2 separate regions of the Homo sapiens genome follow, and region 2 is linked to region 1. The links come from fine-mapping of genetic effects on gene expression. A gene starts in region 1. The other region holds a variant in brackets. All regions are shown on one strand. Distances are between the middles of the regions. Region 1 holds the start of SLC31A2 (solute carrier family 31 member 2). Region 2 overlaps FKBP15 (FKBP prolyl isomerase family member 15).

What was found. PIP is the estimated chance that this variant, and not a neighbour inherited with it, causes the effect. A credible set is the group of variants that fine-mapping cannot tell apart.
Region 2: its variant is the best candidate, but not a certain one, in a credible set for the expression of SLC31A2 in whole blood (TOPMed, PIP 0.89).

What each region holds. Positions count from the first base shown.
Region 1 is chr9:113,149,294-113,152,205 of GRCh38, forward strand. It overlaps SLC31A2 (solute carrier family 31 member 2), which reads left to right and starts at 1,714. Exons shown (of 4, transcript NM_001860.3): 1 at 1,714-1,787. The coding sequence starts at 1,782.
Region 2 is chr9:113,187,524-113,190,435 of GRCh38, forward strand. It overlaps FKBP15 (FKBP prolyl isomerase family member 15), which reads right to left. Exons shown (of 28, transcript NM_015258.2): 13 at 866-968; 14 at 270-376. Among named protein-coding and RNA genes, the nearest start is that of FKBP15, 32 kb to the right of the region's middle. RefSeq lists an enhancer at 12-1,211. The variant T/C (reference allele first, on the strand shown) is at 1,697.

The sequences.
Region 1 (2,912 bases):
CTCTGGTGGTACAGAAAGAAATTTTAGGACTCCCTGGCTAAGTGTTGTAACCAAAACATCCATGAGGAAGTTAGAAGTAAGTGTAAAGGTCATCAGATTGTGACAAAGCCAACAAAAACCGTCAAATGAATAAAGCTGTGTTGCAGATTCTTCAATGCAGGTGGGGGGAGTGGGGTGCACCAGAGCCCACTTATGTGAAGGTCAGATTATCTTACTCCTGCTTCCCATGTAAGGCCCAGAGAGGTGAAAAGCTACACCCAAAGCCCTCCCCAGCTCTTGGAACCCAGATGCTTCAGAGATACCCTTAGCCCTTCTCCCCAGTGCTTCCCCATGGCCCAGTAAACCATGACAGCAGCAGCTCTCCCTCTCCAGCCCCATCACAGTGCCACGGCCCATGTTCTCTCCCTGAAGCTGCTCCATTAGCTTTCAGACTGAGAATCTTAAAAGCTGTGTGGGCCGGGCAAGATGGCTCACGTCTGTAATCCCAGCATCCCAGCACTTTGGGAGGCCGAGGCGGGCAGATTACGAGGTCAGGATTTCAAGACCAGCCTGACCAATATGGTGAAACCCCGTCTCTACTAACAATACAAAAATTAACCAGGCATGGTGGTGCGCGCCTGTAGTCCCAGCTACTCGGGAGCCTGAGGCAGGAGAATTGCTTGAACACGGGAGATGGAGGTTGCAGTGAGCCAAGATCGCGCCACTGCACTACAGCCTGGGCGACAGAGCGAGACTCTGTTTCAAAGAAAAGAAAAAAAGCTGTGTGACCCTGAGGATTCTACCATTTACTGAACAAGCTCCCACTGCCAGGTTACATGATAATTTAACATGTATGTTTTCATTTAATCCCTATGACATAGATTTTATTATTATTTTCATTTTACTGACCAGAAAACTGAGGTTCAGAGATGTAAGCTATTTGCCTACGGTCCCAAAGCCAATAGTTGATGCGTATGGATGTGAACTGAGGTTAGCTCCAGGCTCAAGGTCTCTGCTAATACTGTCCTTAGTAAGGTTTCTCTGAAGAGCCTCTTTACTCATAGGCTGATTAGCAAAGGGTTCCTAAATATGCTTAAGAATCAATAACCATTAAAAATCCCTCACCCTACAAGAAACTCCCCATCAAAAAACTGGATCAGTGAAATGAACAGGCAATACACAGAAATGGAAGTACCCGTAAGAAAAATAGTTTACTACCCTAGTAATCAAAGAAAAACAAAATTACACGGGTGTATTCCTTTTGGCTTATCAGATTGGAAAATATTTTTCTAAAAAGAAAAATGTAATTATCTTGTAATGACTACACTAAAAATCTAGGGCATAATTGACTTAATTTACTCCAAATGTGTTGCTATTGCGTCCATAGCACGGACTTGCCCATTTCAACTCAATATATGTTACGCTTGGGGTAGTTTATTACAATGAGCAATAAACATTCTCATAATCGCCAAGACAAGCCAAGTGCAAAACAGGAAGGGCGAAGACAGAGGGCAGCAGGTGGTCCCTCTCGCTCGCGACTCCGGGAACGCCAAGCCTCAGCCCTTGGGAACCTGGGGCGAGGCGCCTGGGTCTCGGCCAGGGGGCGCGCCCGAGGACGCCGAAGTAGGGCGCGTGTGGGGACCACAACTCCCAGGCGCCCGCGCGCCGCCTCGCCCGGACCACGTGATCCGTGCGGCCAGGGTAGCTATCGCGGCGGCGGCGGCGGCGGCGGTTGAACTGACTCGGAGCGAGGAGACCCGAGCGAGCAGACGCGGCCCTGGCGCCCGCCCTGCGCACTCACCATGGCGGTAAGGGCCGGGCGCTACGGTGAAGAGGGTGGGCGGTTGGGGCGGGGTCTCCTGGAGCTGCCATCTCGGCACCCCGAATCCTCGCTGCCGCTGGCCCGGGGCTGGTGAAGGGTGTGTTGGCAGCATTGCCAACAGCTGGAACAGGGTTGGGGGACGCGGCAGGTATAGGTTGCGGTGGCTCTGTGGTTTTCCTCTTTATTTGTCCCTCCTGCTGGGAGGCAGTCCGGCTAGGCGAGCAGTTACCGAGCGCCCGCGGTGGCGCGGCTTGAGAGTGGGGGCGCGGTGGCTGAAGACAGCTGGGTCCGGGGCCCCCGGCCCCGGACCTCTGGCCGGCGCCCCAGGGCGGAGAGCAGCGCCTTGGGAGATTCCAGGAAGGCTTCCACGAAAGGGAAACCCCCGGCGCATTTCAGCCCGCAGCCCCGCGCGCACACCGAGCGCACATCCCCGGCCCTGCTCTTGTCAAGTTTGTAGCCTGATTCTTCGGGGAATAAAACAGAACCAGCTACTTTCCAGCTTCCCTACACTTTCAGTCAGAAAACAGCGTTTCAGACAAGCTGTTTTTCTTGGTAGGGTTCACCTGGGCTGGAGAGAACGACAGCTTGCAAGACTCGTTCGTCTTTGAAGAAGTCATATCATTTTCTTCATCCCATGAAGAATGTCATAGAATTTAAGATACAGGAAGCTCAGCCTGGGCAACATAGCTAGACCCCGTCTCTACAAAAATTAGCCACAAGTGGTGGCAGGCGCCTGTAATCCCAGCTACTCGGAGGCTGAGGCAGGATGAGGAGGATTGCTTGAGCCCAGAAGTTCCAGGCTGCAGTGAGCCATGACCTTCGGCCTGGGCAACAGAACAAGACGTCCTCAAACAAACAAAACAAAAAAAAAAAGATATAGGAAGTGTATGTAGGCCATTTAGTGAAATGATCAGCCGTCCTTTAAAAAGGGAAATAGATGGAAAGCACTTGCAAAAGTTCCCCAGCCAGTCAGCCTAGCAACTGGGACCTTCATCTCCTTCCCAACCCTTGTTTACAAATAAGGAAGCTTTTCTCAAAGTGTAAGTAACCCCAAATGAAGAAATATAGAAGAAAACAAGTTCCAGGGATTGCTCCCTCCTTCACCACAGCC
Region 2 (2,912 bases), 38 kb after region 1:
AAAAGAAAAGGAAACAAACATTGATTGCATCTTTACTACGTTGTACTAGGGGCTCTACTTGTTCTTGCATTTAATCTTTATGACACTGGAACGTAGGTTATCCTTTGCCTGGTTTAGAGATGAGAAAGTGGTAACCAAGGAAGGGAAAAAAATTACAAACTCTGACTTTGGGGAACTGCTACTGTATGAAATGTACAGGAAGAAGAAAAGAGACTGACTAGAACCACAGCAAATTATAGGATATAATTAATACGGTTATAAAATGTTACCTGAAAGGATTGGGCATTTCCAGATACAGCTGAGTGGGAATCGAGAGATGACACTTGCATTAAGGCAGCAGAAGGTGCCTGGAGCCCAGTAACAGATGGCTGAGGTGCTAAGATAAAGGGAGACATTTTCACTGTTATCCACCCTTGCTTCTTGGTGTGAGTCTAGACTAGCACCTTACATACTATCATGCTTCAGACTCAACTATTTTCCTTGCCTAGTCTCCCTACACTCAGCTCTACTGCAATCTCAGGAATGAGCCAGTGGAAGGAAACTGGGTGCTCTCATGTGCTTCTGACTCAGCCCTAGGATCCCACCCGACAGGAAGTGCAGAACACACCCAGGGAGATGTCTCAATAGCTGAGTGCAGATTTCCAAAACTGACAGTGCAACACAGCAGAAGTCACAACCAGCAGCCAGGTCCATCTCTGGGTATGAAAATGCCTTACCCAGGGACAAACTGACAAGCGTCACACTCTTACATTTACACTTTAGTCCTCAGTACTGAAACAATGCAGCCTAACAGTTTAAGGAACAGTGACGATAATTTTCATGCTGACCCAGTTCAAGGCCACAGAGCCTCAGAGAGGTTCCTTACCCTGTGAGGTCATCTGTGGTAACGCTGGATGGGCCGGATGAAGAGAGGGCTGGACGGACGGAGTCACCACAGGCTGCCCACCTCCTTGCAGAGTGTTCACATCCTGAAACAGGAACAAGCGTTTGGGTTACTCTGTACGGGGTCCCTCATTGAAGACTGAGGCTGACTGTCTGCCCTAAACCTGCTTCCAACACAGGATTTCTAGGCAAAGAAGAGGAAGGAAAGGTAAGCGGAAGGCCAAGAGTTGAGGGTGTGGGTTGTGGAGAAAAAGCACTCTGCTATGCAATAAAGTAAGAGTCCTTCTCCCTATAATCATATTGAATAAGTAAATATAGTTAATTTCCACAAATATTCTCAGAGGTTGATGTTCTATTGTCTGAAGCAGCTAAACTAACCACTCTTCAGAATGTATCATTTTCCAAGCCAGTAACTGCCTTAAGACAAATCTAATCTATTCCCACAAAAAAAGTGGTCTTTTGCAAGAAATAATCCAGCCTCTTCGCTTCTTACAAATCATCCCCATAGTCCTCAAGGTACTCAATGAAAATCAGATAACGTAGGATTCACTGCACCTGATTAACATGCTGTTTTTGGATAATATAGTTTTAGGATGTTTTTCCAACATTCTTTATTTTCATAAAACCAAAGCTTTTCATAAAATCAAAGCTATAACTCTAAACAAAGTTATTCTACCTCCTGCTTCATATAAGAAACAGAAAATCTTGAGGCACAATATACAGTGACTGTAATCTGCTATGCTATAGTTCAAAGACCAAAGTTTCAGACATTCTTTTACTTTAGAACTTCACCTTGTCCCCTTATATTCTCTTC[T/C]AGAAAAACATCCCAGTTTTAGATTTCTACAGCTCTTAACCAACCTAAATGTCTAATAACAGAGTGAAAGGAATTATAATAAAATGATATAATGGAACACTGGGTTTCCTTTAAACCACTTTATTTACTTAAATCATTTATGTTAATGTAAATGTTTATGATACAACATTAGGTTTAAAAATCAGGTTACAAAGCAATATATAAAGATGAATGCCCTTTTTGTTCAATATGTTTCTTTTCTATAATTTTAAATTATTCTAAAATGAATAAGTAGCACATAAAATTTTTAATAAAAATATTCTTATTTACACTGCATTTCCAGACCAGAAAAAAATAATCCTATAACAATAGGCCTCAGAAATCCTATCTTCCTTTAAGATGTTAAATCTACATAGAGCTTTTCCAAGAAATAAAACAAAAATGTAAAATATAAAGTATATTCCAGAAAAAATTTTTTCAAGACCATCGCCCTTTCCTTGTTTTCTATCAAAGTAAAAGAATACTAAAAATCAGTCTAAGTTATATATTTCACTTCAATTGAGAAAGGACGATTATATTCAATAAAGAACTAACCACTAGAGAAGAATTAAGTTAAAATTAAGTTACTTTATAGCATACACCAAATTCCAAATGGATTAAAAATTTAGATCTAATTATAAAATATTGATCAATATCTTTAAAAATACATGTGATATTTATAATCTGAAAGTGGAGAGGCTTTCTAAGCATAATGTCAAAAGCAAATAACAAGGGGAGAAAATTGACAGACTTGAATTCAATAAAATTATTGAACTTCTAAATAGAAAACAAACACAAGAATACCACATACAAAGTCAAAAGACATACTAGTTGGAGCTTTAGTGATAGGCAACATCAGCGAGAAGACCAACATTTCCCAAAAGAATCTAAACATTCGCTCAATAAATATGAATTGAACACCTGCTATGGATTGGGCATCATGCTGCCCAGAGAGTGATCTTTAGTAACAACAGAGATTCTAGTAAAGAAGGCTAAATTAACTACTGAAAACTGCCCAGTTCTTGTAAAAGATCTACAAAATTGCTTCCATCTCTCAGGGAAGTACTAATCACAGTAGAAACACATGTACCAATACCAATCTGTATCATTTTGCATATTAGCTCTCTAAATAATGATTCTGCCTTAGAGAAAAAACAATCACTCCAACCAAATGAAAAGAAAGATGATGGCGACATCT